Linked DNA regions of Homo sapiens. Each later gene encodes a partner of the first gene's protein in a complex. Each region holds a gene or a part of one and is shown on either strand. Other genes may lie near its edges.

What was found.
Region 2: INTS7 (region 1) and INTS12 share a complex: the UniProt entries of both Homo sapiens proteins name them as parts of the integrator complex.

The regions. Positions count from the first base shown.
Region 1 is NC_000001.11:212,007,888-212,011,813, reverse strand, and holds part of INTS7 (integrator complex subunit 7), read left to right. Parts: intron 1-392; coding exon 393-439; intron 440-3,926. UniProt on the Homo sapiens protein: Component of the integrator complex, a multiprotein complex that terminates RNA polymerase II (Pol II) transcription in the promoter-proximal region of genes.
Region 2 is NC_000004.12:105,702,048-105,705,973, forward strand, and holds part of INTS12 (integrator complex subunit 12), read right to left. Parts: exon of another isoform or gene 3,832-3,926; intron 3,344-3,831; exon of another isoform or gene 3,267-3,343; intron 1,763-3,266; 5' UTR 1,601-1,762; intron 977-1,600; exon of another isoform or gene 839-976; intron 1-838. UniProt on the Homo sapiens protein: Component of the integrator complex, a multiprotein complex that terminates RNA polymerase II (Pol II) transcription in the promoter-proximal region of genes.

The DNA.
Region 1 (3,926 bases):
TATTAAAGAAATACTTACTGAATATCCACCATGTTCAGACACTTTTCTAAGTTCCAGAAATATAGGAGTGAAAAAGGTCAGGCCCTGTTGTTATATAAACACAAAATAATTTCAGATGCTTGTTAGTGTTATGAAAAAATAACACTGTATTGTGGTAATGGCCTAAGTGAGCTGCTTTAGAGCAGTGTTGGCATAGCCCATTTGGTGCTGGAGTTTTTGTTTTAGTTGTGTTTCTTACCACCTCCCCTAACCCGAGCACCTGACCTTGGAATATTAGTTGCAGTTTGGAATATTGTATTTCTTCTGCGCTAATTGTGTTTTATTTCTTTTAAGTCCTTAGAAAATATAAGCAAATGTAAGTTTTTTCTGTTCTCTGTTCTCTTTTTCCAAAGGGATTTTGCTGTAGGAATCTGTAACAAAATCAGTGAAATGATTCAAGGTATGTATTCTTCATTTAGTATTATGAAGTGACTTAATTAGATTTATAATAGTTGCTAACACTAATTAAGTACTTATTATTTGCTAGTCACCATACATTCAAATAATATTTATTAAGTATCTTCTATTTGCCCAAACTGTTCTAAATGCTGAGGATACAGGAATGAGCAAAACAAAGTCCTTACCCCCATCTAACCTACACTCTAGTCAGGGGTGGGGTGTGTGGGGATAGACAAATGTGCCTATGACATTTCTGGTGCTATGGTGAAAAAGTGAGAGAAGAAGGATAGAGAGTCTCAAAAGTAAGTCGTTGGTGGGTTGAGAGAAGGGACTTATCTATTTTATATATATTGATCAGAGAAGGGACTTTTTTGTATATATTGATCAGAGACAGTCTCTGATGAGGTGATACTTGAGTGAGACATGAAGGAGAGAAAGGAGTGAGCCATGCAGATATAGTCTTGCATTGCTTAACAATGGGGATCCTGTGTGAGAAATGGGTCCTTAGGCAGTTTTGTTGTTTGAACTTCATAGAGTGTACTTAAATAAACCTAAATGGTATAGCCAACTGTACACTTAGGCTGTATGGTATAGCCTATTGTTCCTAGGCTCTAAGCCTATACAACATGTAACTGTGCTGAATACCCATAGGCAATTGTAACAAAATGATTTGTATATCTGAGGTAGAAAAGGTAATATATTGCACTGTGGTGTTACAATGACTACAGGGTCTATGAAGTTACTAGGAATTTTTCAGCTCCATTATAATCGTATGGGACCACCGTCTGTCATGTGGTCCATCATTCACCAAAGCATACTTATGGGGGGCATGATTAGTGTAGGGAAGACTGCTCTGTGTGAGAGAGGCTAATATTATTAGGAGCTCTGGAACTCTCTGCTAATGTCCCTCCAGTGTCTTCCAGTTGCATTTAGAATCAAATCCAGATTCCTTACCATAGACTACAAAGCCCTGGTTTTCCAGTCTCTTATACCATAAGTCATGTGTATTAACCCTATTTATCCTTACAACAGTCATTATGGGAGCCCAAGAGCTCCCATAGGGTTAATACACGTGTCATACCCCTATTTATCCTAGCAGTCATAAAAGGGAGCTCTTGGGCTACAGCATTGCCTGACTCTAGAGAACACCACTTTGTTTATATTCTTATAAAGAGCATTCCTTTGAATTGTGCAATGTGGCAGCCTTGGATAGGTAATACCATTATGTTCGTTTTACAGGAAAGGAAATAGAGCCACACTAAAGCTGAATGATTGGTTCACAGTAAAAAAGCTGATAACTTACAGTTTGGCTTTGAGGCCGATGCTTTTAACCACTTATGCTACTGTGCCCTTCTAAGGCATGAATTGCTTAGTGTAGTTATATTTTGCACGCATTTAAATTGTCCTTCAAATTAAAATTAAAGAGAACTTGCTCACTTGCATAAATAATAAAAATCACTTAAAGACCAAGATACAGTGAATGAGCTTTGTTGTGTTCCCCTTTATTCCTTTGTGTTTTTTCTTCCACCATTAGCAAAAGGGCTTTCCTGCAGAAAAGTATCCTTATGACATTAGAAGGAAGCATCACTTATTCATTGAGCAGATTTTATCAGTGCCTGCTGCATCAGACAAGATCTCAGCAGGAAACAGGTGGCACATTTGAATTAAGATAACTCAAGGAAGGTGTAATAAAGGAACCATTCACAAAGGCATGGTCAGGGTGTACTATAGGGGATAATGTAGTTCTTGAACCCGTAATAGCTTTTACCATACCTCTAAGGGTACAGGTTAAAGAGAGGTTACTAGAAAATTGGTATCATGTCAGGAGGACCACTTTGAGAAGCTAACCTCCAGGAGCATGATGTGACCCTGCAGTGAGAGAACCAGGGAATAAATACTCTGACCTCATTCTTCTCTGCAACTCCTGCTGGGCTCTCCATTGGTTAAACCCAAACAAAGGGTAGATAGCAAGGGAGTTGATGAAAGCTATACAGGTGAGCCTTCTAGGATGCTGGAGTATTCTGTGTATCTGATGACAGTTATATGAGAATATACATATGTAGAAATACATTAATCTGTACACTTAAGATTCATTACCTTATTGTTCCTTAAATTTTATCTTAAAAAAATCTGAAAGAACAGGAATTAGCAGGAGAGAGAGGCAGAGGAAAACATAGGAGTGTGGGTGGAGGAAAATTGGAACCTAAGATATGGAAATGAAAGAGGAGTTTTAGGAACAGAATCCTGACATTTGGTTTTAAGCCACTTTTGTTTCTGCCAAGTAAAATCTCCGAGCCTCCCTAAATCTTTAGTAAAGATGCCTGTAAACACAAAGATCCCTCTGAGTACTGGGTTGAGAATAAACTTGCAGTGGAGGAAAGAGGGGGATATAAGAGTGGAGTCTGCCATGGGGAAAGGCCTAAGCAGGGAGAATACTTAGGAGACTTGCAATAATTTAGTCAAGAGATGGTAGTGGAAATGGATCGGCATGGTAACAACGGAGGTAGAAAGAGTCAGTTTGGGTTTTATTTTGAAGTTAGAACCAATAAGATTTGCTAATACATTTGGAAATGGGATGTGATAGAATCCTTTCACTAATAAGAAAGACTCCAGGGTCTAAGAAGCTATAATGATGTGATTTACTGAGACAGGAATATTTTTGGAGGGGCAGTTTCAAGGTTAAGATCAGTTCTCTTTGAGCCTTATTAATACAAAATGCTTCTGAGACCTCCTAGTGCAGATGACCAGAAGATAATGAGATACATGCGTCTGACGTCGGGGCAGGAGGACGGATGGGTGGCAGCCTTTCACATTTAGCCGATAATGGAAACCATGGGATTATATCAGCTCACTCAGGGAAAACACATAGAATGAGAAGAGAATTTATTACCAACCTATGGGAATATCAGAAATTAAAGCGTAGACAGACAAGGAGACTACAAAGGAGATTAAGAAGGAACAGCCAGAGAAAGAGGTCAGAAAACAGTAAAAGTGGAAGAGCCAAAGCCATTAGGAGTGAGTTTCAAAGATAGAATGGTCAGCAGTGTCAAGTGCATTCAGAACCTTAAGGAACAAAGTAATAACATGAGCATGATGTGACCCTGCAGAGAGGAAAGCAGGGAATACTCTGATCTCATTCTTTTCCCTCTGGCAAACCCAAGTAGAGGCCATCTAGCAAGGGAGTTTATTGACGTAGGCAACTGTTGGACGTTGAAATGCTGTCTTACGTTCATACCCACAATTATTTCACCATGGAAAAGCCAGCAATACGCAGAGTATAATTAGCTTGTGGCATGTATGTGGTACATTACGACTGAGAAATTTGTGTTCACCATGACCACAAAGCCATGCCATAGAGAAAAGATTTGTTGGTTTCGCTCCACTGTTGACAGGAAAACGTGGATTAGGGTTAGTCTTCATGGATCCAGTCGTGTATGCAATAAAGAAAGGCATTTACTACACAAAGTTCAGAGGACTTCGAAACCATT
Region 2 (3,926 bases), on another chromosome or scaffold:
TACTAACATGGCCCTTTGACCCAGTGGTCCCCATGGTGGAATACAGAGAAAAAAATATTAACTTTTTAATTTATTTCTATTTCTTTTTTTTTTTTTTTTTTTTTTTGAGACAGAGTCTCGCTCTGTCGCCCAGGCTGGAGTGCAGTGGCATGATCTCGGCTCATGGCAAGCTCCGCCTCACGGGTTCATGCCATTCTCCTGCCTCAGCCTCCCGAGTAGCTGGGACTACAGGCGCCCGCCACCACACCCGGCTAATTTTTTGTATTTTTTAGTACAGACGGGGTTTCATCATGTTAGCCAGGATGGTCTCGATCTCCTGACCTTGTGATCCACCCGCCTCGGCCTCCCAAAGTGCTGGGATTACAGGCGTGAGCCACCGCGCCCAGCCAATTTATTTCTATTTCTATTTATTTTTTAAAAATCTATTCATATACAGAGTGATAATAGTGTGTTATATAATTGATCTTTAACCTCAAGGAGCTTTATCTTCAGCCAGTGAAATCTGAAACTTGCCACAACTATTGTCCTCTTTTATTACAATCAATTCTCCTTTCTGACTACAATCTTCCATTACTCTATCTCTTCCACTGCCTTAATCCAGGGACCTCTTCAAAGTGCCAAGTCAATCTTTCTTCTGTATTTATTCATTTCTCTATTCCCATTCTACTTGTTCTTTGTTACAGAAGCCTCCAATTTCTTGTCCCTTCTGCTTTCTCCTTATTGGCACCCTCTTGCCCTGACTTTTGTTTCCTCACCAAACAGAAAACAGTAGTTGAACCTAAAATAAAACACTTATGGTTATGTGGTTTATATTTTATATTTTAGTTTTCTATCTTACCTTTACTCCCCCTTTTCTGTTGCCTTCTCTAATCTCTGTTACTTTTCCTTCCTTACCGGCAAATATCCATATAGTGAAAGAAGTTTACTTTCTACAGCAGTCATAAAGAGGTCAGCAACTTGGTGTAACTGTGTTGATCTACACATACAAAAATATTTTCCTGGAGTTACACCAAATCATGTTACTTCTATACAATTCCTTTCCTGTATATTCATTCCTAAACCCATGGCCAAAACAGACTGCAAAAGAGCCATATCATTCTTACTATGGATTAGAGTTCTAGAAAACAAAGTCCTGTGTGTGTGTATGAAAGAAAAATGTATATATGAAAGATATTTAATATATTAAATGTAGGTTTCATTTAAAAAGTAGATGTTGCTTTCAAAAAGGAGAATGTGAGAAAATTAATATTTACCACTTTAAAGCTTTCGCTGACCTAGGGAAGTGGTAGTAGTAGTATTGATAGGAGTGAATTCTTAGGTGATGCTGGGAATTAGCTGTGTCAAATGCATATAGCACAAAAATCGCCATTACTGAACAATGATCTTTTTTCTGTATCTCTTATTATCCTTGATTTATTGCAGTATGCCGTTTACTTCCTATCCAGCTCACATTCTGTGGTCCACCCTTTCAATACCTCTTTCAGTACTCTAGGCACCCGAAAGCCCTGTAGTTTCCCTACTTTATAGACATCCACCCTGCTAGCCATTCTCTCTCTGCCTGCACCCAAACTCTAAGTGCAACTGGGAGGAATATACATACATTCTATCTTCAGAATCACCATTCTCAGCTTGGCGTTCAGTACAACTTGGCAATTCTCTCATCCTTCTCTGGTCAACTCACTTCCCCACTTTCTGCAAAGATCAGTTATACTTCCTCCATTTTCTTTTAAAATTGCTTCTGTGTTTCAGTAGATGGCCTCACCTACTTCACAAAGAGAGGCTGTCAGAGAGGAATTAAGTCGACTTCCTTCCAGCACATCTACAAACTTACCTGCACTCATCCTTTCCTCTTTCCCATCTGATAAAAAAGGAGAAGGTAGCTCTCTATGTAGTGTCACCTGGATCTGGATCCTATCTCTTCTTGTCCCCTCTTGAACCTTGGCCTATGGATTATTTCCCATATCTTCTTTTTTTTTTTTTCAGCCTTTCTACTGGCATCTTTTCATTGACATTAAATATATTCAAACATCTTCTATCTTTTCTCTTTTATAGCAAAACGTTCTCAGAAATCATATGCTTTTGTACTCTTTTTCTTCATTCCTTCTATTTACACAGCAATTCTTGCAATTCAGCCTTTGTCCCACTATTCCATGAAAATGCTCTCATGAGTCATTCGCCGCCTCAGTCAGGTAAACCTAATACATACGATTGTCCCTCCTACTTCTTTGTCAGTCATCTTTGTAGGTTCCTCCTATCCAATTAAAAATGAGTTCCTCAGTGCTAGGTTCTGGGTCTCTTCTTGACTTGTTCTACATCTTCTTCCAAAAATGTGTTCTCTGAGTCAGCAGCATAGGTATCACGTCAGAACTTAGAAATACAAACTCTTGGTCTCCATTCCTAGGCCTACTGAAGAAAAAACTCTGGGAGTAGGGTCTAGAAATCTGTGTTAAGCCTTCCAGGCAATTCTATCTACTCTAAAGTTTGGGAATTATTGCCCTAGACAATTTGATCTATATAGTCTTTTGCCAGTGATTACTAATACATCTCTGCAGTCCATGTGTCTCTCCCAAGATCCAACTGCCAGCTTGACATGGATATATCATTGGTGCCTCCTATGCAACGTGTCTCCAACAGAGCCACTCATACACTATTCCCTTTTCTCCTAACCAGTTCTTCCTCTAGTAATCCCTTTTTCAAATGATATTTACCCTATTGCCCAAGCCAGTAACCCAGAAGCAGCTTTAACTCTTCCCACTTCCTTAATTCCCACCCCCAATTCAATAACCAAACCTCTTAAACATACCTCAAATCTATCCACCCTTTTCAATCCTTACTACTACCACCCTAGACCAACCTAGCATCATCTATTATCTGGCCCACTGCAAAAGCTTAATCAGTCTCCCACAATCACTCTTGTCATCCCTTTAAACCTTTTCATATCACTCACTTGCTTAAAATCCTTTTATCACTTCTCACAATCCAAAGGTTCAAGAATAAGATTCTTAACAAGGTCTCCAATTCTCTACATCAGGGGTCCCTAACCTTCAGGCCATGCAGCAGGAGGTGAGCAGTAGGCAAGCGAGGGAAGCTTCATTTGTATTTACAGCCACTCCCATCACTTGCATTACTACCTGAGCTCTGCCTCCTGTCACATCACTGGTGGAATTAGATTCTCATAGGAATGCGAATCCTATGTGAACTGTGCATGTGTGTGATCTACGTTGTGTGCTCCTCATGAGAATCTAATGCCTGATGATCTGTCACAGTATACCCCATCATCCCCAGATGAAACCGTCTAGCTGCAGGAAAGCAAGCTCAAGGTTCCCACTGATTCTACATTATGGTGAGTTGTCCAATTATTTTATTATATATTACCATGTAGTAATAAGAGAAATAAAGTGCACAATAAATGTAATGCACTTGAATCATCCTGAAACCATGTCTTCAATGAAACTGGTCCCTGGTGCCAAAAAGGTTGTGGACCATTGCTCTACATGATTAATAATACATATAAAGCAGTTACAACAGTACCTGACACATAGTTGACACTCATTAAATGTTACCTAGTATCTTAGGCCATTCTCACTCTCTCTGTTATAGCTATCTGACTTATTTCAAGTCCTCCAATATACTCTTTCTTACCTTAGCACTTCAGTAGAAAGTGTGCCACCCCCACCTCCATCTTAAGTCACCTCTCAAGTTTCAGTTTTTCCTGCACATTCCCTCAACAAAACTAGAAGTTTCACTGTTACATAGCCCAAAAACATTCTGTACTTATTTGTAATATTAATCACACTGTTAATTATGTAAATAATCTTTCTTTCTCATTAGAATGTAAGTTCCATGAAGGCAGGCAGTGGATTGGTCTTGCCTACTGTTGTAACCCCTGTCTGGCAGAGTTCCTGGAAAACAGCAAATAACTGTAA